Linked DNA regions of Homo sapiens: regions 1 and 3 are each linked to region 2. The links come from fine-mapping of genetic effects on gene expression. A gene starts in region 2. Each other region holds a variant in brackets. All regions are shown on one strand. Distances are from middle to middle.

Region 1 (8,175 bases), 22 kb after region 2:
TCCCCTCAAAATTTACATGTTGAAACCTGATCATGAATGCAATAGTATTCCACGGGACTTTAGGAGGTGACTAGGTCATGAAGGCAGAGCCCTCACAAATGGGGTTAATGTCCTTATAAAAGAGGCTTGAGGGAGAGCCCCTTGCCCCTTTGGCTGTGTGAGGACACAGCAAGAAGGCACCATCTGTGAAGCAGAGAGCAGGCCCTCCCTCCACACTGAGTCTTCTGGCGCCCTGATCCTGGTCTTTCCAGCCTACAGACCTGTGAGCAATACATTTGTATTGTTTGTAAATGACCAGGTCTACGGTGTTCTGTTACAGCAGCCCAAATGGACCAACACAACAGTTGATTTTCTTTTTCTTTCTTTCTTTTTTTGTTTTAATTTCTTTTTCTTTTTCTTTTTTTTTTTTTTTGAGATGGAGTCTCGCTCTGTCACCAGGTTGGAGTGCAGTGGCGCAATCTCAGCTCACTGCAAGCTCCCACTCCCTGGTTCAAGCGATTCTCCTGCCTCAGCCTCCCAAGTACCTGGGATTACAGGCCCGTGCCAACACACCCAGCTAATTTTTTTTTTTTTTTGTATTTTTAGTAGAGACGGGGTTTCACCATGTTGGCCAGGATGGTCTTGATCTCCTGATATCGTGATCCTCCCACCTCATCCTCCCAAAGTGCTGGGATTACAGGCGTGAGCCACCGTGCCCGGCCTTCTTCTTTTTTTGAGACAGGGTCTCCCTCTGTCACCCAGGCTAGAGTGCAGTGGTGCAATCACAGCTCACTGCGGCCTCAACCTCCTGGGCTCAAGCAGTCTTCCCGCTTCAGCCTTTCAAAATGCTGGGATTGCAGGTGTGAGCCACTTTGCCTGGCTGACAATAGTTGATTTCTTTCACATGTAAAAGTCTGAGTTGGGATGATGGCTCTGTTTTGTAACATTGCCTGGGTCCAAGCTCATCCTACTGTGTAGCTCCTTTCCCCAGGGGGTTGCCTTTGCCCATAGGGTAAGATAGTTCCCACTCTGTTTCAGACCGCAGACTGGGGTAAAATGGAAGGAGACATGTTTACTCCTACTCAGTCTCATTGACAGAAGTTAATTACATTATCATACCCAGTTGGTAGGGATGCTGGTGTCCCGTGCGTCTGTGGGAAGAGACCACCAAACAGGCTTTGTGTGAGCAACAAGGCTGTTTATTTCACCTGGGTGCAGGTGGGCTGAGTCTGAAAAGGGAGTCAGCAAAGGATGGTGGGATTATCATTAGTTCTTACAGGTTTGAGATGGGCGTACAAAGTACATTCAAGGGCGGGGAGAATATTACAAAGTACCTTCTTAAGGGTGGGGCAGAATATATGGTATCAGTTAGTGGGGCAGGAACAAATCACAGTGGTGGAATGTCATCAGTTAAGGCTATTTTCACTTCTTTTGTGGATCTTCGGTTGCTTCAGGCCATCTGGATGTGTACGTGCAGGTCACAGGGGATATGATGGCTTAGCTTAGGCTCAGAGGCCTGATATTCCTGTCTTATATTAATAAGAAAAACAAAACAAAATAGTGGTGAAGTGTTCGGGCGGTGAAAATTTTTGGGGGTGGTATGGAGAGATAACGGACGATGTTTCTCAGGGCTGCTTCGAGTGGGATTGGGGCAGCGTGGGAACCTAGAGTGGGAGAGATTAAACTGAAGAAAGATTTTGGGGTAAGGGGTGATACTGGGGGTTGTTAGAAGGAGCATTTGTCCTTCTAGAATTACTGGTGATGGCCTGGATGCGGTTTTGTATAAATTGAGAAACTAAACAGAAGACACAAGGTCCAAATAAGAGAAGGAGAAAAGCAGGTATTAAAGGACTAAGAATTCGGAGGACCCAGGACATCCAATTAGAGAGTGTCCAAGGGGGTTCAGCATAATTACTTGCTTGGCTGGTGAGTTTTGGGGCTCTATCTTTGAGTTTTTTTGTGTTGTCATATACCAGGCCAGATTGATTTAGGTAAAAACAACACTCTTCATTTAAAAATATACAGAGTCCTTTTTTTTTTTAGCAGTGAGTAAGTCGAGGCCTTGGCAATTTTGGAGGAAAGAGAAATGCAAAGCCAGTAATTGTTTGTTAAAGGAGGATTAGAAATGGCTGGGAGAGAGTGAGATTGATAGTGTGGTGGAGATAGCTGGGGAGAGGTAGAGGATGGCATAAGAATGGGAACCAAGGCCGGGCGTGGTGGCTCACCCCTGTAATCCCAGCACTTTGGGAGGCTGAGGCGGGCGGATCACGAGGTCAGGAGATTGAGACCATCCTGGCTAACACAGTGAAACCCCATCTCTACTAAAAATACAAAAAATTAGCTGGGTGTGGTGGCGGGCGCCTGTGGTCCCAGCTGCTCCGGAGGCTGAGGCAGGAGAATGGTGTGAACCCAGGAGTCGGAGCTTGCAGTGAGCCGAGATCGCGCCACTGCACTCCAGCCTGGGCAACAGAGCAAGACTCTGTCTCAAAAAAAAAAAAAGAATGGGAACCAGAATAACAGTGAGCATAGAAGTAAAGAATAGGACTTCATCAGGGTGAAAGTATTGGAGGGTACCTTGCCACTGAAGATCTATCCACTTCAAGAGAGACTTAAGGCGATTTGAGGTAAAACCAGGAGCCACTAAATACCGAGAGCCTGAGAGACTGCTTGGGTGATTTGACTAATAAAGGCTGGTCCGTTATCAGACTGTATAGAGGTGGGAAGGCCAAACCGTGGAATTATGTCTGACAGAAGGGAAGAAATGACTGTGGTGACCTTCTCAGACCCTGTGGGAAAGGCCTCTACCCATCCAGTGAAAGTGTCTACCCAGACCAAGAGGTATTTTAGTTTCCTGACTCAGGGCATGTGAGTGAAGTCAATTTGCCAGTCCTGGGCGGGGGCAAATCCCCGAGCCTGATGTGTAGGGAAGGGAGGGGACCTGAGCAATCCCTGAGGGGTAGTAGAATAGCAGATGGAACACTGAGAAGTGGTTTCCTTGAGGATAGATGTCCACGAAGGAAAGGAAATGAGAGGTTCTAAGAGATGGGCTAGCGGCTTGTAACCTACATGGAAGAGGCTATGAAGTGACGACAGAATAGAATGGGCCTGTGAGGCTGGAAGGAGATATTTTCCTTGGTCTAAAAACTATTTGCCTTGTGTGGGAAGAGATTGATAGGTGGCAGTTTCAGTGGGGGAGTAGGTGGGAGTGACCGATGTGAAGGAGAAAAACTGGCCGTGAGGGGCAGAAGTTGGAAAGCTAGCTGCTTCTTTAGCTACCTTATCAGCATAAGCGTTGTCCTGAGCAATGGGATCTGATGCCTTTTGATGGCCCTTGCAGTGAATGACTCCAGCTTCCTTTGGAAGAGAAGTGGCCTTGAGAAGAGTTTTTATTAAGGAGGCATTAAAGATGGAGGACACCTGCGTAGTGAGGAAACCTCCTTCAGCCTATATAACTGCATGGTGGGGCAGAATATGAAAGGCATATTTAGAGTCAGTATAAATATTGACGCGTAGTCCTTTTGCAAGAGTGAGGGCCTGAGTTAAGGCAATGAGTTCAGCTTGCTGAGAGGTAGTGGAGGGAGGCAAAGCAGTATCCTCAATGATAGATGTGGAAGATACTATAGCATAGCCTGCCTTTGCTGGTGTGTGGCGATTAGGCCTGGTGGAACTGCCATCAATAAACCAAGTGTGATCAGGCTGAGGAACAGGAAAGAAGGAAATATGGGGAAATGGGGTGAATGTCAGGTGGATCAGAGAGATAGTCATGAGGGTCAGGTGTGGTATCCAGAATAATGTGGGAGGCCGGATTGAAGTCCGGGCCAGGAACAATGGTGATTGTGGGAGACTCAACAAAGAGTGAGTACAGCTGAAGGAGCCGGGGAGCAGAAAGTATATGCATCAGGTATGAGGAAGAAAATAGATTTTGAAAGTTATGAGAACTGTAGAGAGTGAGTTGAGCATA[G/C]TTTGTGATTTTGAGGGCCTCTAAAAGTATTAAAGCAGCGGCAGCCACCACACACAGGCATGAGGGCTAGGCTAAAACAGTAAGGTCAAGTTGTTTGGACAGAAAGGCTATAGGGCGCGGTCCTGGCTCTTGTGTAAGAATTCTGAGAGCACAGCCCTGTACTTCAGCTGCGTGTGATGAAAAGGGTTGGGATGAGTTAGGGACAGCTAGTGTGGGAGCAGCTTTTAGGGCTGTTTTTTTTTGTTTTTTTGTTTCGTTTTGTTTTTTTTTGAGACAGAGTCTCTCACTCTGTTGCCCAGGCTGGAGTGCAGTGGCGCGATCTCGGCTCACTGCAAGCTCCGCTTCCCAGGTTCATGTCATTCTCCTGCCTTAGCCTCCTGAGTAGCTGGGACTACAGGCACCCGCCACCACCCCCGGCTAATTTTTTGTATTTTTAGTAGAGATGGGGTTTCACCATGTTAGCCAGGATGGTCTCGATCTCCTGACCTTGTGATCCACCTGCCTCGGCCTCCCAAAGTGCTGGGATTACAGGTGTGAACCACTGTGCCCGGCCAGGGCTGTTTTTTAAGGAATGGAAAGGGGAGTGGGGAAAGGATTTAGGATTTATGGGGTCAGCTAGGTTTATCTAGAACAGAATAATGGGTTGTGGAGGGAGGTATTGAGGATAGGAGAGTATACGGGTTTGGCACCATGGGGTGGATAGGCAAGACAATGTGGTTGATAAGGCACAGATCCTGAACTAACCTGTAAGACTTGTCTGGTTTTGGATGGGTAGGATAGGGGAGTTGTAAGGAGAATTTGTAGGCTTCAAGAGACCATGTTGTAACAGGTGGGTGATAACAGGCTTTAACCTTTTTTTTTTTTTTTTTTTTTTGAGATGGAGTCTTGCTCTGTCGCCCAGGCTGGAGTGCAGTGGCACGATCTTGGCTCACTGCAAGCTCTGCCTCCCAGGTTCACGCCATTCTCCTGCCTCAGCCTCCCGAGTAGCTGGGGCTACAGGCGCCCGCCACCAAACCCGGTTGATTTTTTGTATTTTCAGTAGAGACGGGGTTTCACCATGTTAGCCAGGATGGTCTCGATCTCCTGACCTCGTGATCTGCCCGCCTCGGCCTCCCAAAGTGCTGGGATTACAGGCGTGAGCCACCTCGCCCGGCCTAACCTTTTTAAAGCGTGCTGTGGGATGGGATATTGGTGTTGAGTGGGGTAAGGGTGATTAGGTTTTAATGGGATGGTAAGGGGTGCATGATCGGTCACCAAGGAGGGAGTAGAGGTATCCCATACTTGCGGATTAAGGTGGGGAGATACAAGGGGAGGATGTGAAGGAGGCTTTGAACTGGGGAAAAGGGTGGCAATGAGGTGTGGCTGTAGCCCAGGAATGATCAGGGAAGCAGATAATTTGGTTATAATGTCTTGACCTAATAAGGGAACTGGGCAGGTGGGGATAACTAAAAAGAAGTGCATAAAAGAGTGTTGTCCAAGTTGGCACCAGAGTTGGGGGGTTTTAAGAGGTTTAGAAGCCTGGCCGTCAATACCCACAACAGTTATGGAGGCAAGGGAAACAGGCCCTTGAAAAGAAGGTAATGTGGAGTGGGTAGCCTCCGTATTGATTAAGAAGGGGACAGACTTGCCCTCCACTGTAAGAGTTGCCCAGAGCATCTGTGATGGTCCAGGAGGCTTCCGAGGTGATGGGGCAGTGTCAGTCTTCAGCCGCTAAGCCAAGAAGATCTGGGAAGGAGTCAGTCAGAGGGCCTTGGGCCGGAGTTCCAGGGGCTTTGGGAGTGGCTGCCGGACAAGTTGGACAGTCCAATTTCCAGTGGGGTCCTGCACAGATGGGACACAGCTTAGGAGGAATCCCGGGCTGCAGGCATTCCTTGGCCCAGTGGCCAGATTTCTGGCACTTGAAGCAAGATCCTGATGGAGGAGGTCCTGTAGGAATGCTAGACCACTGCGGCGTAGGCATTTTGAAGTTCTTGTGTGCTGGAGATGTGGCTGGGGTTTCTCTCACAATGGAGGCAAGGAATTGCAACTCAGAAATATGTTGCTATGCAGCTGCCTCTACTCTATTAATGTACACCTTGAAGGCGAGGTTAATTAAGTCCTGTTGTGGGGGTTTTGGAGCTTTATTTAATGTCAGGAGCAGATTGGGTAATAAAATGCATATTGAGAATAAGAGGCCTTCTGACCCTTCAGGGTCTAGGGCTGTAAAGGGCCTCAGGGGTGCTGCCAAACGAGCCATGAACTGGGCGGGGTTTTTATATTTGATGAAAAAGAGCCTAAACACTAACTGATCTGGGAGAGGTCGGATAAAGGAAAAGGAGCATTAACCTTGACTATGCCTTTGGCTCCAGCCACCTCTTTCAGAGGAAATTGCTGGGCAGGTGGGGGAGGGCTAGCTGCAGAAGAAAACTGTAAGCTGGATCGGGTGTGGGGAGAGGAGGTGATGGAAGGATTATAGGGCGGGGGAGAGGAGGCTGAGGAAGAATTGGAGCCTGATTCAGCCTGGTGGGGAGCGACCTGAGGAGGAGCAGCCTGGGGAAGAGGGGAGAGGTCAGATGGGTCGGTAGAAAAGGAAGATTGAAAAGACTCAGTGACGCTTGGGGTTGAGACTGAGGGGACAGGCAGGAGGGAAAGAAGGAGGATTTGGGACAAGTCGCATTAGGAACAGAGACTAGGGAGGGACCAATGTGTAAAAGAATGCCTGGATATCAGGTACCTCAGACCTTTGGCCCATTTTACGACAAGAATTATCTAGATCTTGTAGGATGGAAAAATCAAAATTGCCGTTTTCTGGCTATTTAGAACCATTGTCGAGTTTGTATTGGGGTTAAGCAGCATTGCAGAAGAAAATAAGGTGTTTAGGTTTTAGGTCAGGTGTGAGTTGAAGAGGTTTTAAGTTCTTGAGAACACAGGCTAAGGGAGAAGGAGGGTCGGACGGTGGAAGGTTGCCTATAGTGAAGGAGGCAAGCCCAGAGAAAAGAGAGAGTAGAGACATGGAGAGAAGGGGTGGGGGGTGCTTGCCCCCCAGGAAAGTGGTGCTTGCCACTAAGGGTGAAGGATCAAGGCAAGCGTCCCCGTGGTGATCAGACACCTCTGAAACGTGGGTGAATAATCAAGCAGGCGTCCCCGCAGTGATTAAACACCAAGGGAAGACTGTCTTCCCGAGTCCGTGACCAGCGCTGGGGTTTTGGGTTCACGTATAAAACACGTCTCCTCTGTCTCTACCAGAAAAGGAAAGGAACTGAAATTAAGAGAAGGGAGAGACTGAAGGGTGGCGCCAAGATTCAAAGGAGAAAGAGGTTGAGGGATAGTGAGAGAGGTTGTAGAAGAGAGTAAAAAGAGACTGCTTACCCAATTTAAAATTGGTGAAATATTCCTTGGACTGGTTGGTCTGAGGACCCGAGGTCATAGGTGGATCCTTCTCACGGTGCAAAGAGCAGGAGGACAGGGGATTTATCTCCCAAGGGAGGTCCCCTGATCCTAGTCACGGCACCAAATGTCACGCACGTCCGTGTGAAGAGACCACCAAACAGGCTTTGTGTGAGCAAAAAGGCTATTTATTTCACCTGGGTGCAGGTGGGCTGAGTCCGAAAACAGAGTCAGCAAAGGTGGGATTATCATTAGTTCTTATAGGTTTGGGATGGGCGTACAAAGTACATTCTCAAGGGCAGGGAGAATATTACAAAGTACCTTCTTAAAGGCGGGGGAGAATATTACAAAGTACCTTCTTAAGGACCAGGCAGAATATATCGTATCAGTTAGGGTGGGGCGGGAACAAATCACAATGGTAGAATGTCATCAGGTAAGACTATTTTCGCTTCTTTTTTGGATCTTCAGTTGCTTCAGGCCATCTTCATGTATATGTGCAGGCCCACAGGGGATATGATGGCTTAGCTTGGGCTCGGAGGCCCGACACTGGGATATGTAACCATTATTCTAGATGGCTATGCTAAACCCAGCATAATCAGAGGTTCCATTTTGTTGAGAAAGAAGGGGACAACGAATATTGGGCAACAATTTGTCATCTCTGCCACTGAAACCACTGCTTCTCTGTCCACTACATTTTATCAAAGGCAGAGTGTCTTGCAATCAGCTTGACTTGCAAGAGGCTCAAAGGCCTCTTGGAATGCCTTGCATCAGTTTGCTTTTGTGGCATAAAAAGTTACCCCAGGTGGGCGCAGTGGCTCACCCCTGCCTGTAATCCCAGCACTTTGGGAGGCTGAGGCGGGTGGATCACT
Region 2 (8,165 bases):
GTGTGGTGGCTCGTGCCTGTAATCCCAGCGCTTTGGGAGGCCAAGGCGGGCGGATCATGAGGTCAGGAGTTTGAGACCAGCCTGGCCAACACAGTGAAACCCCACCTGTAGTAAAAATACAAACATTTGCTGGGCGTGGTCGTGGGTGCCTGTAATCCCAGCTACTTGTGAAGCTGAGGCAGGAGAATTGCTTGAACCCGGGAGGCAGAGGTTGCAGTGAGCCGAGATCTCACCACTGCACTCCAGCCCAGGCAACACTGGGAGACTCCATCTCAAAACAAAACAAAACAGAACAAAAGTTAGCTGGGCATGGTGGCACACACCTGTGGTCCCAGCTCCTCAGGAGTCTGAGGTGAGAGGATGGCTTGAGCCCAGGAAGTTGAGGCTGCAGTGAGCCGAGATTGCACGACTGCACTCCAGCTTGGATGAGGCAGCCAGACCCTGTCTCAAATAATAATAATAATAAAATAGAACAATTATAACAGATTGTAATAAAACTCATGAATGTGGTCTCTTTCTCAAAATATCTTATAGCACTGTAATCACCCTTCTTTTCCTTGTGATGTAAAATGACAGTGCCTATGTGCTGAGATGAGGTGAGGTGGATGACATAGGCATTATGACCTGGCGTTAGGCTACTATTGACCTGAGAATCCATCAAACTTATGAATTGTTTATTTCTGGAATTTTCCATTTAATATTTTTGGGCCATGGTTTACCTCAGGTAACTGAAACCACACAAAGTAAAATTGCAGAAAAGGAGGGACTACTATAATAAGAAGAGAAGGAAGGAGACAGGAAGGGCATAAGGCAGACAGGAAGTGGAGGGGAAAGATAGGAAGTGCAGGAAGGAGACAGGAAGTGGAGGGGAAAGACAGGAAGTGCATGAGGGAGACAGGAAGTGGATGGGGAAAGACAGAAAGTACATGAGGGAGACAGGAAGTGCTGGGGAAAGACAGGAAGTGCATGAGGGGGACAGGAAGTGCATGAGGGAGACAGGAAGTGCATGGGGAAAATTGGCAGGGATTATCTTGAAAAGACAGGAAGTGCTCCAGAACTAGATACTTAGGCATCCAGGGTAGAGTGGCCCCACAGGCTGGAGGGAAGACAGGGATTCTTGAGAGACTGGAGACCAAGAAGAGACCCTAACCTCTGACTCATCGCCATCCTCCAGGAAAACCGGGAGGTGGGAGACTGGCGCAAGAACATCGATGCACTGAGTGGAATGGAGGGCCGCAAGAAAAAGTTTGAGAGCTGAGCCTTCCTGCCTACTGCCCCTGCCCTGAGGAGGGCCCTGAGGAATAAAGCTTCTCTCTGAGCTGAAAGTGACTCCATGTCTATTACCCAGGGCTTAGGCAGGAGACAGATGGGAAGACTGCAGGTGGGGCTCCCCCAAAGCCACACAGCAGGTTGGGGACCAGATGGGTCTCCCATGTGAAGCACTCTTGGCTGTGTTATTGAAAAGAATCCCGGGGTTCATGAATTTGGAGAGCGGAGCTTTGTTTCTTAAGAAGCGGATCACAACCTGAAGACCAGAAGCATGGCTTCTTGCCAAAAAACAAAAGCAGGCACTTTAAGGGAGGGAAGGGCAAGGCAGGAATTTATGCTGAGTGGGTTAGCTAAGTGCACGTATTCAACTGGTTATAGAAGGAGCTATGAATATTCATGGACAGGTGGACACATGGACACACGCATGTGTGACAAGCAAACACTCATTTTTTTTTTTTTTTGAGACGGAGTCTTGCTCTGTCACCCAGGCTGGAGTGCAGTGGCACGATCTCAGCTCACTGCAACCTCTGCGTCCTGGGTTCAAGCCATTCTCCTGCCTCAGCCTCTCCAGTAGCTGGGATTACAGGCATGCACCACCACGCCCAGCTAATTTTTGTGTTTTTCGTAGAGACGGGGTTTCACCATGTTGGCCAGGCTGGTCTCGATTTCCTGACCTCGTGATCCGCCCTCCTTGGCCTCCCAAAGTGCTGGGATTACAGGCGTGAGCCACCGCGACTGGCCGCAAACACATTTTACATGCATCCCACCTTCACTTGGTGGTGGAGGCTTAACATTTAAGTGCATTCCATTGAATGCATTCGTATCGAAACACGAAGCAGGGATATGAAGACACTCAGTGCACAGCCTCTGTCAACAGCCAGAACCAGTCCGTGGTCTGCGGCATCTTATCAGGAGAAAGTTACTGAAATCAGTCTCTTGTTCAACTAATGCTGTAGTTATGCCTTGTGGAACAGGGGGTTCAGCTAGTCAGCATCTGGCAATGGATGGCTGCAATGGTTGTAATATTGCTTATCTTGAGGCCGGTGCTTGTTTAGCTGCTAGAAAAAGGAAAAGCCTTGTGGCAGTTGGAACATAGTCGATTATATAAGTGTAGGGATGCGTGGCTTAACCCTTGCCTGGCATGGCCTTAGGTCTTGTTTATAATTTGGTATCTTATTGCCACAAACAGTTCATTCCATCAGTCTTCTGATCTCTATTGTCACAGCTCCTCTGGCCCATGTGGAGTGCACAGAGATGCCAAGACTAAAGGTCAAAGAGAGAGAGACACAGAGAAACAGACAGGCAGAGAGACATGACCGACAACAGAGAGACTGAGTTGGGAGTAGAGAGAGTAGGAGCCAGGCAAAGACCCAAAGAGAGAGGGAGAAAATACCACAAGATGCATAGAAGGAAGTGCAAAGAAAGGAGAAAAGAGAGACAGAGATATACTCACAGCAAGGTGCAGAGACATGGAGACCCTATAAGAGATGGAAATGGAGAGCCACAGAGGGGGAACTGCGGGCACTAAGAGAGACATGGAGAGAACTAGAAAGATAGAGACGTGAACACAGACACAGAGACCCAGAGCCAAAAAGAGACAGAAATGGGGTCATAGGTGGACAGAAATGCACAGAGAGACTGTGAGCCCCCACAGACACAAACGCTGAGAGGGGCAGACATGCAGAGACACCCACAGAAATGCAGAGACAAAACCACCCGGAGACACATGCCGAGAAACACACTGAGGGGCTCAGAAAGCGACAGATGCAGAGAGAGCCCAAGACAGACCCAGCAAGGGGCCCCGAGAAATGCACAGAAACACAAAGACCGAGACCACCAGAGACAGAGGTACGGAGAGGCGGGGAGGGTGAGGAAGCCTGCTCTCCAGGGCTGGCTTGAACCTAGAACTCAAGGTCATGGCTTGGCTGGGAAGCGGGAGGGGGATACCAAAAAAGATCAGCGTTAGATGGAGGTGGGGAGGGAGGGTAGGTTTCACCCTAATTGACACCCCACCCTCCCCCTCCCCCTCCCCACACCTGCTTCCCGGCTTTAGTGCCTGTTGTCACCAGGATGGAATCCTGGCGGCAGACAAAGGGGTGGGGGTGGGAGGAGGAGACAAAAAGATGGACAGAGACAGAGGAGGAGACTAAGAAGTAGAGACAGACACACAGAGACACACAGATGGAGAGCCACAGAGACAACAGAAATGGGGGTCCAGAAAGAGACCTAGATAGAAAGAGGGAACAGAGAGAAGAAAACAGGAAACATTCCTTATAGCCCATGTGTCATTAGTAGGTCCTCCAAGGACCTACTGTGTGCCGGGCATGGGGACGTCAAAGCACAGGGAGCTATAAGGGAGGTAGTTGGAGCACCACGGGAGCCTGGGGTGTGGGGTGGGAGCAGGGGCGGGGCTCCTGGGCCATGCAGATGGGGTTGGCATGGGGTTGGGGAGGGGCCCACGGAGGCTTCTGGACTCTGAGTGTGGAGCCAGGGGCAGCAGGGCTGTCTCTGAACTCCCAGGCTTGTGTTTGAGCAAAGGAATTCTCTCCCCCTCCCTCTCCCCTCGGGGCGGGCCCGAGCCTCCAGCTATAAACTCCCCGGAGCTTCAGTGCCCTCAGCAAGGCTCAGCCTCAAGATTCACAGCATCTCAGACACAGCCTAGGTAAGGGGCTCTGCGGAGCCCTGTGGTCTTCAAAAACCATGTCCTTGGGGGAGGGGGCAGGAGGCAGGTGGGGAAGATGTCGGGTGTGGAGAAATGGTGCAGAGGTAGGTGGGGCATACAACTGGAGGTCTGGGAACTTGAGAGGCTCAGACTTTAGGGGGACTCAGGATAGAGGGGAAAATACTAGGATTTGTGGGTTACACAAATCCTAACCCGGGGCTGCCAGGACTTGGATGTCCCAGAATAAAACCTCCTAGGATCTTGGGGTTCTGGGAATCTGGGGGAAATCTCAGCAGTCAGGGATATCTGGACTTGGAGGTCAAACAATCTGGGTGTCAGGATTTGGGGCCTCAGACTCTGAGGGTATCAGGAATTGGGGGGGTCTCAGAAGAAATTGGGGTTTTGGTAGTGGAGGGCTCGGAATCTGAGACATTATGATAGAAAGCATGAAAACTTAGAGTGCCATTATCTGGGGTATCATGAACTGGGCCTCCGAGTTTGGGTATCAAGATTTTGGGGGTCTCATATTCTTGAGGTTTCAGATTTTAGGAGGTCTCAAGACCTGGGGGTGGTCTTAGGATGTCCCGGCCCATATCTGGACTATCAAGAACTGGGATTTCAGAATCCAGAGCTGTGAGGACTTGCTGGCCTCAGAAACACGGGCATCATAAATCGGGGTCTCAGAATCTGTGGGTATTGGGATTTGGGGCTAGGCACCCTGTGGCCTAGGGTGTCTCAAAGACTTTGAGGTCTAAGAATGTAGGGGTCAGGGTGAGGTCTACGGACAGAAGGTGCCCTTTATGCCCCTGCCCCCTACGTGATGTATGGGAAGGTGAAAGGGGAGACAGGTGGGGAGGAAACCAGCCAGTGGGGTGGGGCGAGTGGGAGAGGGGATGCGGGTGACTAATTCTCCCAGAAGCCCCCCTTCCTCAAATCCCTTCTTAGGAAATGTCCTCGGTTTCACCATCTATGACATCCCCCCAAAATAGCTCCTGGGGGTGGGGCAGCTATTGTCTTCAGGCCACTGTCCCTTCTCAAATGCCTCTTCCTAATCCCAACTGGATCAGGTTCCCATGGACTTGTCATAAGACAAAAGAGGACAGCTGTGCTGAGGGGGCAGGGTCTGCAGCCTCCTGGCTGTGCCAGGACCACACCTACCAAGGTCTGTCCTCATGCATGCTTTAGGACAGCCGGCCCCCTCCCTCAGACCCAAGAGTCCAGACCTGAGCCCTCCTCCCTCAGACGCAGGAGTACAGGCCCCCAGCCCGCTCCTCCCTCAGACTCAGGAGTCTAGACTCCCAGCCTCTCCTCCCTTAGATCCAGGAGTCCAGGCCCCAGCTCCTCCTCCCTCAGACCCAGGAGGCCAGGCCCCCAGACCCTCCTCCCTCAGACCCAGGCGTCCAGGCCCGCGGCCCCTCCTCCCTCAGACCCAGGCGTCCAGGCCCCTGGCCCCTCCTCCCTCAGATCCAGGAGTCCAGACCCCAGCCCCTCCTCCCTCAGACCCAGGTGTCCAGGACAACCCATCTCAGTCTCAGGAGTCCACACCCACCCTCCCACACACCCCCCAGCCCCTCCTCCCTCAGACCCAGGAATCCGGCCCCCAGCCCCTCCTCCCTCAGATCCAGGAGTTCAGGACCCCAGTCCCTCCTCCCTCAGACCCAGAAGTCCAGGCCCCAGCCCCTCCTTCCTCAGACCCAGGAGTCCAGGCCCCAGCTCCTCCTCCCTCAGACCCAGGAGTCCAGACCCCAGCCCCTCCTCCCTCAGACCCAGGAGTCCAGGCCCCCAGCCCCTCCTTCCTCAGACCCAGGAGTCCAGGCCCCAGCTCCTCCTCTCTCACACCCAGGAGTCCAGACCCCAGCTCCTCCTCTCTCACACCCAGGAGTCCAGACCCAGGAGTCCAGGCCCCCAGCCCCTCCTCCCTCACACCCAGGAGTCTAGGTCGCCCCCTCCTTGGGGCCCCACCCCACTGGGCCTCTTCTCTCTGGTCCTTAGGCCGCACCAGGATGTCGGACACCGAGGAGCAGGAATATGAGGAGTGAGTGCTGCACTGGGAGGGGTTGGGGCGTGCAGTGGTGGAGAGGCTCTCCCACCCCAGGTCTAACTCTCCCCTCCCTCCTCTCTCCCCACACCCGTCCGCAGGGAGCAGCCGGAAGGTGAGTAGGGAGTGGGCCGGCCCTATGGGATGGGGACACGCCCAGGAGCTCTTGGGAGGGGAGGCGAGGAGTGTGGCACTTTGGCGGGGAAGGGGCGGCTCAGCCCTCGGGCCCTCGCCCGCCCTCTCCGGGTCTGGAGCGTCTCCTCGCGCCATCCCTGCACCGCCAGGGGGAACGTGCCCATCGCAGCCGAGGCCAGAGGGACCCCCGTCCAGCAGAGACTGGAACCCTGGTCTCTGGCCACCGCCCCCATCCCTCCCCCAGCTCCTAACGCCTTCTCTTCTGTGCCCCCATCTCCAGAGGAGGCTGCGGAGGAGGAGGAGGAAGGTGAGGTCCCGGACTCCGCAGGTCTGGAGCTGGGGGGTGGGGGGGCGGGGACGCTGGGCCCGGGAGGAGGGGGCGGGATGGGGCTCCCGACGGCCTCGGCTCCCGGTCCTCTAACAGCCTCTCACGTCTCTTCCCTCTCTCCCCTCCCGCGCCCGGGCGTGGCCGCTCCCCCCTCGCTCCCCAAACCCTCGCTGCTCCTCCCTCCCCTCCCCAGCCCCCGAAGAGCCGGAGCCGGTGGCAGAGCCAGGTAACCGCGGCTGCTTCGCTTCCCGAGACCGATGTCGGGGGCCCGGGGGGACCCCCGATATCCTCGGGCCCCAACCTCCAAGACCACCCTTCCCTCCCTCCGCCCCCATAACCCGCCCCCAGGCCCGGTCCTTTAAGCCCCTGAGAGCTCCTGCGCCCTCTCGGGGCCGGGAAGGGAAATGGCCCCGCAGTGGCTTTAACCCTTTCCCTTCCTTCTTAAAGGGACCGACACCCAAGCCTTCTTCCCCAGTCTGGAGGAATCTTTACAGAAGGGTTGGATGTTTGCGGAGAAGCACCACCCCATCCCCCCTTATCTTCGCCTCCAACCTTGTCTGTTATTTTCTCCCCCATATACATTCAAAGGTTGGGGCTTGGAATTTAGGATTGCAGAGGAGGCGAGCGCTGGGAGTCAGGGTCTCCAAGGTCGGGCCGGGGGCGGGGGGGCGGTGGGGCGGTGGGCAGGGGGCGAGCTGGGGAGAGAGCGCTGGGGTCACTGAATGAAGACAGAGGTTGGGACCCCCTGCACTGCTGGGTCCTAATGGAGGAGAGCAGGAGCTCTGGGCATATAAATAGAGAAAGGTCTGGGGGTTTGCACTCCTGGGTGTGCAGACAGTGGGGGTGGGGGGTCCCCACACCAGTTCTGAATGTATATCTGATGCGTGTGACCCTCTTCCTCCTTTACAGCCACCCTGACTTTCCTTCCCTCTTTTCTTCTCCCCATCCCCCCTCCTCCAGAACTGGACTCCAGAGTCCTTCCCTGGGGTCCTGGGGGCCGAGGCTTGGGGGGTCCCTCCCCAGGGTGTGTCAGGCCTAGCCCCTCTCCTCTAAACTCTTGCTAATTATCTCTTTTTATCCCCCACCACCAACAGAAGAGGAACGCCCCAAACCAAGGTGAGATCCTACAGGGTGGGGGGCCCCAGTCATACATCTTCCTAAATATTCCCTCTACCCCCAGAGACAAGGTGTGAGAAAGGCAGAGATGGAGGGAGGAAATTGAAACAGCAGTCGACATTTCTCCTCCTCCTCCTCCTCCCTCCCCCTTTCCCTCCTCCCTCCTCTCCCTCCTCCTCCCTCCTCCTCCTCCACTTCCTCTTCTTCCCCTTCCCCTTCTCCTTCTCCTTCCCCTTCTTCTTCATCGTGGTCATAGTCTCCACCCTGTTACCCAGGCTAGAGTGCAGTGACCCAATCCTGGCCCACTGCCTCAACATCTTGGGCTCAAGCAATCCTCCCATCTCAGCCTCCTGAGTAGCTGGGACCACAGGCATGTGCCACCACACCTGGTTTTTTTTTTTTTTTTTCTTTTTGTAGAGATGAGGTCTTGCTATGTTGCTTAGGCTGGTCTTGAACTCCTATCCTCAAGCAGTTCTCCCACCTTGGCCTCCCAAAGTGCTGGGATTACAGGCGCAAGCCACCATGCCCAGCCAGTCTGTTTCCTTCTTTCCACCCAGTGGTCCCTCTTCCCCTCGCGCCTTTACCATCACCCCAGCCTCCTCTCTGGCCTCCCTGCC
Region 3 (8,175 bases), 56 kb before region 2:
GCAACACACAGCTGTGCTCACGGACAGGAAGCAGCCCCTCCTCCCTCAAACCAAGAGTCCAGACCCCAGCCCCTCCTCCCTCAGACCCAGGAGTCCAGGCCCCCAGCCCCTCCTCCCTCAGACCCAGGAGTCCAGACCCCAGCCCCTCCTCCCTCAGACCCGGGAGTCCAGGCCCCCAGCCCTTCCTCCCTCAAACCAAGAGTCCAGGCCCCCAACCCCTCCTCCCTCAGACTCAGGAGTCCAGACCCCCAGCCCCTCTTCCCTCAGACTCAGGGGTCCAGACCCCCAGTCCCTCCTCCTTCAGGCCCAGGAGTCCAGACCCCCAGCCCCTCCTCCCTCAGACCCAGGAGTCCAGACCCCAGCCCCTCCTCCCTCAGACTCAGGAGTCCAGGCCCCCAGCCCCTCCTCCCTCAGACCCAGGAGTCCAGACCCCAGCCCCTCCTCCCTCAGACCCGGGAGTCCAGGCCCCCAGCCCTTCCTCCCTCAAACCAAGAGTCCAGGCCCCCAACCCCTCCTCCCTCAGACTCAGGAGTCCAGACCCCCAGCCCCTCTTCCCTCAGACTCAGGGGTCCAGACCCCCAGTCCCTCCTCCTTCAGGCCCAGGAGTCCAGACCCCCAGCCCCTCCTCCCTCAGACCCAGGAGTCCAGACCCCAGCCCCTCCTCCCTCAGACTCAGGAGTCCAGGCCCCCAACCTCTCCTCCCTCAAACCAGAGGTCGAGACCCCCAGCCCCTCCTCCCTCAGACCCAGGAGTCCAGACCCCCAGCCCCTCCTCCCTCAGACCCAGGAATCCAGACCCCCAGCCCCTCCTCCCTCAGACCCAGGAGTCCAGACCCCAGCCCCTCCTCCCTCAGACTCAGGAGTCCAGGCCCCCAACCTCTCCTCCCTCAAACCAGAGGTCGAGACCCCCAGCCCCTCCTCCCTCAGACCCAGGCCCCCAGGCCCCCAGGCCCTCCTCCCTCAGACCCAGGAGTCCAGACCCCAGCCCCTCCTCCCTCAGACTCAGGAGTCCAGGCCCCCAACCTCTCCTCCCTCAAACCAGAGGTCGAGACCCCCAGCCCCTCCTCCCTCAGACCCAGGAGTCCAGACCCCCAGCCCCTCCTCCCTCAGACCCAGGAATCCAGACCCCCAGCCCCTACTCCCTCAGACCCAGGAGTCCAGACCCCAGCCCCTCCTCCCTCAGACTCAGGAGTCCAGGCCCCCAACCTCTCCTCCCTCAAACCAGAGGTCGAGACCCCCAGCCCCTCCTCCCTCAGACCCAGGAATCCAGACCCCCAGCCCCTCCTCCCTCAGACTCAGGAGTCCAGGCCCCCAACCTCTCCTCCCTCAAACCAGAGGTCGAGACCCCCAGCCCCTCCTCCCTCAGACCCAGGAGTCCAGACCCCAGCCCCTCCTCCCTCAGACTCAGGAGTCCAGGCCCCCAACCTCTCCTCCCTCAAACCAGAGGTCGAGACCCCCAGCCCCTCCTCCCTCAGACCCAGGCCCCCAGGCCCCCAGGCCCTCCACCCTCAGGCCAAGGTTCCTGATCCCCAACCTTGGTTTTTTTCTCCCTTCCCAGTCTGTTCATTGCTCTCTGCCCTCGGTTTTCCAAGGACATATATTTCAGGAAATGAAATCATTAATTTTATCTCTCAGCCTTATCGGGTGGAGCCAACCCCAGCTCCCTAAGCTCTGCTCCTGCCATGCTCCCCCTTCTCTCCTCGACCCAGGAAAGACGGTCGAGGTCGTGACAGCCCAGCCTAACACCGGCCCCTCCTTCCCATGCAAGGGTGACTCATGGGGCGGGGACCAGCCGCTCCTCCCAGCCCCTCGGCCTCACTGGGCGGAGGAGTGGTTGAGAGGCTGACTCCGTTTTCTCTGGGTTCCCTCCAGGGCCTGTGCAGCTGGACAGGGGCCAGGGCGCCTGGTGAGTGACCCCTGCCTGAACTCACTGCCCACTCGAAGAGGTGGGACCGCAACTGCCGTGAGCCTCTGGGGGGTCCCCGTGGGGTCCAGTGGTCCATGGTAGGGGTTTATGAGCGCCGTTGTTTCTGGACTTGGGGCGTGAGCTCAGGGGTTGGGAGGGATTGTACTGACCTGGTTCCCTTTTTGTCAGACCTTCCTTCCCAATTCTCAGCCCCCAACCCAGGGAGGAACCTGACAGTGGAGACTCAGACCACCAGCTCCATCTCCCTGAGCTGGGAGGTCCCCGATGGCCTAGACTCACAGAACTCCAACTACTGGGTTCAGTGTACTGGAGACGGCGGCACAACAGAGACTCGAAACACAACAGCCACCAACGTCACCGTGGATGGCCTTGGACCCGGGTCATTGTATACGTGTTCTGTGTGGGTGGAGAAAGACGGAGTAAATAGCTCTGTGGGGACTGTCACTACTGCCACAGGTAAGAGGCAGCCACTGCTTTATTTTTATTTCTTTTATAAGGACAGTGGTAGGGGGTGGTTGAGAGCTGACAAAATGCGACAGGTTCTTTAGTTGGATAGAAACACAGTGGAAGCCACACGTGAGAATTTCAATTTTCTATCAGCCACATAAAAATAAGTAAAAAGAAACTGGTCAGCCTGTCTCTACAAAAAAATTAAAAAGTAGCTGTGGTGGCGTGTTCCCGTGGTCCCATCTACTCGGGAGGCTGAGGTGAGAGGATCGCTTGAGCCCGGGAGGCAGAGGTTGCAGTGAGCTCTGATTGGACCGCTGCACTCCAGCCTGGGCAACAGAGAGAAACCCTGTCTCAAAAAAAAAAAAAGAAAAGAAAACAAAAGAAAACAAAAGAAAAGAAAAACAAACTAAATTACTATGAGAGATTTTATGTAGTCCATCAGATACAATTTTTTTTTTTTTTGAGGCAGAGTCTTGCTCTGTCGCCCAGGTTGGAGTGCAGTGGCATGATCTTGGTTCACTGCAACCTTTGCCTCCTGGGTTCAAGTGATTCTCCTGCCTCAGCCTCCCGAGTAGCAGAGACTACAGGCATGTGCCACCATGCCCAACTAACTTTTGTATTTTTAGTAGAGACTGGGTTTCGCCATGTTGGCCAGGCTGGTCTCGAACTCCTGACCTCAGGTGATCCGCCTGCCTCGGCCTCCCAAAGTGCGGGGATTACAGGTGTGAGCCACTGCACCTGGCAGATACAAGGTATTTTCATTTTGACTTGTAATCAATATAAAAACGATCATTCAATATATACACCAAGTATATACTCACACACACACAAATATATATAAAGGATCAATGAGACAGTTGACATTCTTAATTTCATACGAACTCTTCGAAAGCCGGTGTGGATCTTCCACTAACGGCTCATCTCATTTCACAAAAGCCACCTCAC[G/A]GTGCTCAACACTCACGTGGAACTCGTGGCTGCCACACTGGACAGTGCAGAGCTGGGCCTCCCTGCCTCTACCTGCTGGATGCAACGGTTAAGGAAGGGCTGGAAAGTTTGAGGGCCAGAAACTACAACTGATTTTCCCTCCTGTGCTGGTTTTCAGCTCCCAACCCAGTGAGGAACCTGAGAGTGGAGGCTCAGACCAACAGCTCCATCGCCCTGACCTGGGAGGTCCCCGACGGCCCAGACCCACAGAACTCCACCTACGGGGTTGAGTACACTGGAGATGGTGGCAGAGCAGGGACTCGAAGCACAGCACACACTAACATCACCGTGGATGGACTTGAACCCGGGTGTTTGTATGCGTTTTCCATGTGGGTGGGAAAGAATGGAATCAACAGCTCCCGGGAGACTCGAAATGCCACCACAGGTGAGAGGCAGTCGCCATTTGTTTTGCTCTTACTTGTTTAAGGGGCAGTAGGCAGGAGAACGTAGCGGATTTCTATTCCATAGTCCCTCTGGGCCACATTGAGCCAGGTACTCATGTCCACATCCTGGGGCAGTCTCAGCTCAGGAGATGAAGAAGGAATGAATGTCCATGGTACCTCCAGCTGCTAAGCTGGGGCCGGTCTGTGTCTAGGACTCTCTAGAATGTACCTTCCTGCACCAAGAGGAATGTGTAGGGGCCAAGGCATGTTACCTGAGCTTTCAAGGAATTAGATACTGTGAGTGGGGACACTCTGACCCTCTGACTCTTCTTCTAGTCCCCAGCTGCGTCACATATTGAGGATGGAAACTCAGATCATCAGCTCCATGATCCTGATGTGGAGAGCTCCCTCTGGCTAGATCTCCATTGTCCGATATGGTAGCCACCAGCCACACATGGCTATTAAATTTAAGCTCGTTAAAGTTGCATGAAACTGCAAATTCAGTTTCACATTTCATATGTTTGAAAGCCCTGTTGAAGGGCTTCCATTTCCTTCTCTGTTCTCCTACCATACTGGAAGGTGGGAGAGCATTTCCATCGTTGCAGAAGCTCAGTTGGAAAGCGCTGGCTCAGGTCTTTGTTACTCAAAGTGTGGTCCATGTGTGGGCAGCATCCGGGTCTCTGAGAGCTGATGGAAATACATTGGCAAGTGACACTGGTGGGGGAGAAAAAGGGTGGGGGGGAGTGCAGTCTCTCAGCTCCATCCTAGCCCTGCTGAGTGAGAACCTGCATTTCACAAGGTCCCCTGTGAGATGTGCACACAGCAAAGAATGAGAAGCCCTGGTCTAGACCATAAACTCTGCATCTACTGGCACCAGCTGTTGAGGGACAACTAGGAACTCTGATGATCAAAAATGCCCACTTGGCCAGGCATGTTGCCTCACGCCTGTAGTCCCAGCACTTTGGGAGGCCGAGGTGGGAGGATCACCTGAGGTCAGGAGTTCGAGACCAGCCTGGCCAGCATGGTGAAAAAATATAAAAATAAGCCGGGTGTGGTGGTGCAGACCTGTAGTCCCACCTACTCGGGAGGCTGAGGCAGGAGAATCGCTTGAACCCGGACGGCGGAGGCTGTGGTGAGCCGAGATCGTGCCACTGCACTCCAGCCTGGATGACAGACAGAGACTCTGTCTCGAAAAAACAAACAAACAAAAAGCTCACTGGCTGCCCCCGTTATGTTCTGTAGTCCTGCTCATATTAGATCTTTCTTCCTAATTTCTCAGCTCACAACCCAGTGAGGAACCTGAGAGTGGAGGCTCAGACCACCAGCTCCATCTCCCTGAGCTGGGAGGTCCCCGATGGCACAGACCCACAGAACTCGACCTACTGCGTTCAGTGCACTGGAGATGGTGGCAGAACAGAGACTCGAAACACAACAGACACCAGAGTCACCGTGGATGGCCTTGGACCCGGGTCATTGTATACGTGTTCTGTGTGGGTGGAGAAAGACGGAGTAAATAGCTCTGTGGAGATTGTCACTAGTGCCACAGGTAAGAGGCAGCCGCTGTTTTATTTTTATTTCTTTTATAAGGACAGTGGTAGGGGGTGGTTGGGAGCTGACAAAATGTGACAGGTTCTTTAGTCCAATAGAAACACAGTGGAAGCCACAGGTGAGAATTTCAATTTTCTATCAGCCACATAAAAATAAGTACAAAGAAACTGGTCAGCCTGTCTCTACAAAAAAAATAAAAAAGTAGCTGTGGTGGCGTGTTCCCGTGGTCCCACCTACTCGGGAGGCTGAGGTGAGAGGATCGCTTGAGCCCGGGAGGCAGAGGTTGCAGTGAGCTCTGATTGGACTGCTGCACTCCAGCCTGGGCAACAGAGAGAAACCCTGTCTCAAAAAAGAAAGAAGGAAGGAAGGAAGGAAGGAAGGAAAGAAAGAAACTAAATTACTATGAGATATTTTATGTAGCCCATCAGATACAATTTTTTTTTTTTTTTTTTTGAGACAGAGTCTCCCTCTGTCGCCCAGGCTGGAGTGCAGTGGCGCAATCTTGGCTCACTGCAAGCTCTGCCTCCCGGGTTCAGGCCATCCTCCTGCCTCAGCCTCCCGAGTAGCTGGGACTACAGGCGCACACCGCCACACCTGGCTAATTTTTTGTATTTTTAGTAGAGACGGGTTTCACCGTGTTAGCCAGGATGGTCTCGATCTCCTGACCTTGTGATCCACCCGCCTTGGCCTCCCAAAGTGCTGGGATTACAGGCGTGAGCCACCGTGCCCAGCCCTTTTTTTTTTTTGGGACAGAGTCTCTGTCTCCCAGGCTGAAATGTAGTGGCATGATCTTGACTCACTGCAACCTCCACCTCCTGGGTTCAAGTATTCTCCTGCCTCAGCCTCCTGAGTAGCTGGGACTACAGGCATATGCCACCATACCTGGCTAACTTTTGTATTTTTAGTAGAGACGGGGTTTCGCCATGTTGGCCAGGCTGGTCTTGAGCTCCTGACCTCAGGTGATCCGCCTACCTCAGCCTCCCAAAGTGCTGGGATTACAGGTGTGAGCCACTGCGCCTGGCAGATACAAAATATTATCATTTTGACATGTAATCAATATAAGGAAAGGATCATTAAATATACACACTGAGTATATACCCACAAAATATATATATATATGTGTATGTATATATATGTGTGTGTATATATATGTGTATGTGTATATATATGTGTGTGTGTGTGTGTGTATAGGATCAATCAGATAGTTGACATTCTTAATTCTTAATTTCATACGAACTCTTCGAAAGCCGGTGTGGATCTTACACTAACGGCTCATCTCATTTCACAAAAGCCACCTCACGGTGCTCAACACTCACGTGGAACTCGTGGCTGCCACACTGGACAGTGCAGAACTGGGCCTCCCTGCCTCCACCTGCTGGATGCAATGGTTAAGGAAGGGCTGGAAAGTTTGAGGGCCAGAAACTACAACTGATTTTCCCTCCTGTGCTGGTTTTCAGCTCCCAACCCAGTGAGAAACCTGACAGTGGAGGCTCAGACCAACAGCTCCATCGCCCTGACCTGGGAGGTCCCCGATGGCCCAGACCCACAGAACTCCACCTACGGGGTTGAGTACACTGGAGATGGTGGCAGAGCAGGGACTCGAAGCACAGCACACACCAACATCACCGTGGATAGACTTGAACCCGGGTGTTTGTATGTGTTTTCCGTGTGGGTGGGGAAGAATGGAATCAACAGCTCCCGGGAGACTCGAAATGCCACCACAGGTGAGAGGCAGTCGCCATTTGTTTGATCTCTTATTTGTTTAAGGGACAGTAAGCAGTAGAATGTAGACGATTGTCTATTCCATAGTCCCTCTGGGCCATATTGAGCCAGGTACTCATGTCCACATCCTGGGGCAGTCTCAGCTCAGGAGATGAAGAAGGAATGAATGTCCATGGTACCTCCAGCTGCTAAGTTGGGGCCAGTCTGTGTCTAGGACTCTCTAGAATGTGGACCATAATGCCAAGGGGCACCTTCCTGCACCAAGAGGAATGTGTAGGGGCCAAGGCATGTTACCTGAGCTTTCAAGGAATTAGATACTGTGAGTGGGGACACTCTGACCCTCTGACTCTTCTTCTAGTTCCCAACTGTGTCACATATTGAGGATGGAAACTCAGATCATCAGCTCCATGACCCTGATGTGGACAGCTCCCTGTGTCTACACCTCCATTGTCCAATATGGTAGCCACTAGCCACACGTGGCTATTAAATTTAAACTCATTAAAGTTGCATGAAACTGCAAATTCAGTTTCACATTTCATGTGCTCAAAAGGCCTGTTGAGGGGCTCCCAGTCCCCCCTTCATCCTCCACGGTGCTAATGCCTACCATATTGGAAAGTGAGAGACTGTCTTCATCACCACACAAAGCTCCCTTGAGTCTCTCTTATTTTTTTCTTTTTTTTAGAGCTGGAGTCTCGCTTTGTCATCCAGGCTGGAGTGCAGTGGCAGGATCGTAGCTCGCTGCAGCCTCAAATTCCTGGGCTGAAGCAATCCGCCGACCTCAGCCTCCCAAGTAGCAGGGACTACAGGCGTGGGCCACCATGCCTGACTAATTTATTTTTTTTAGAGATGAGGTCTTGCTGTGTGGTCCAGGCTGGTCTCTAACTCCTGGCCTCAAGCAATCTCCCTACCTCAGCCCCACAAATTGCTGAGATTACAGGCATGTAATCTCACATGAAATGTGAAACTGTGCTGGGCCATTGGGCCTCTCTTAGGCAGTAACCCCAGGCATAAAGGCTTCACCTTTATGACCTAATCTTGCAAGGGCCCTACCTCTTAATGCTATTCCATTGGAGATTTTTATTTTGTTTTTTTTGTTTGTTTTTTTTGTTTGTTTTGAGACGGAGTCTCGCTGTGTCGCCCAGGCTGGAGTGCAGTGGCGCGA

The links. PIP is the estimated chance that this variant, and not a neighbour inherited with it, causes the effect.
Region 1: its variant is fine-mapped to the expression of TNNT1 in lung (TOPMed, PIP above 0.99).
Region 3: its variant is fine-mapped to the expression of TNNT1 in whole blood (INTERVAL, PIP above 0.99).

The regions. Positions count from the first base shown.
Region 1 is chr19:55,122,482-55,130,656 of GRCh38, reverse strand. MIR7975 (microRNA 7975) reads left to right here and starts at 7,365; the gene lies at 7,365-7,432. The variant G/C (reference allele first, on the strand shown) is at 3,941.
Region 2 is chr19:55,144,927-55,153,091 of GRCh38, reverse strand. It overlaps TNNT1 (troponin T1, slow skeletal type), which reads left to right and starts at 3,886. Exons shown (of 14, transcript NM_003283.6): 1 at 3,886-3,931; 2 at 5,924-5,966; 3 at 6,071-6,084; 4 at 6,385-6,411; 5 at 6,626-6,658; 6 at 7,527-7,548. The coding sequence starts at 5,935. It overlaps TNNI3 (troponin I3, cardiac type), which reads left to right. Exons shown (of 8, transcript NM_000363.5): 8 at 1,175-1,325. The coding sequence ends at 1,258.
Region 3 is chr19:55,200,896-55,209,070 of GRCh38, reverse strand. It overlaps PTPRH (protein tyrosine phosphatase receptor type H), which reads left to right. Exons shown (of 20, transcript NM_002842.5): 2 at 1,872-1,905; 3 at 2,116-2,382; 4 at 3,479-3,745; 5 at 5,023-5,289; 6 at 6,749-7,015. Among named protein-coding and RNA genes, the nearest start is that of PTPRH, 4.5 kb to the left of the region's middle. The variant G/A (reference allele first, on the strand shown) is at 3,322.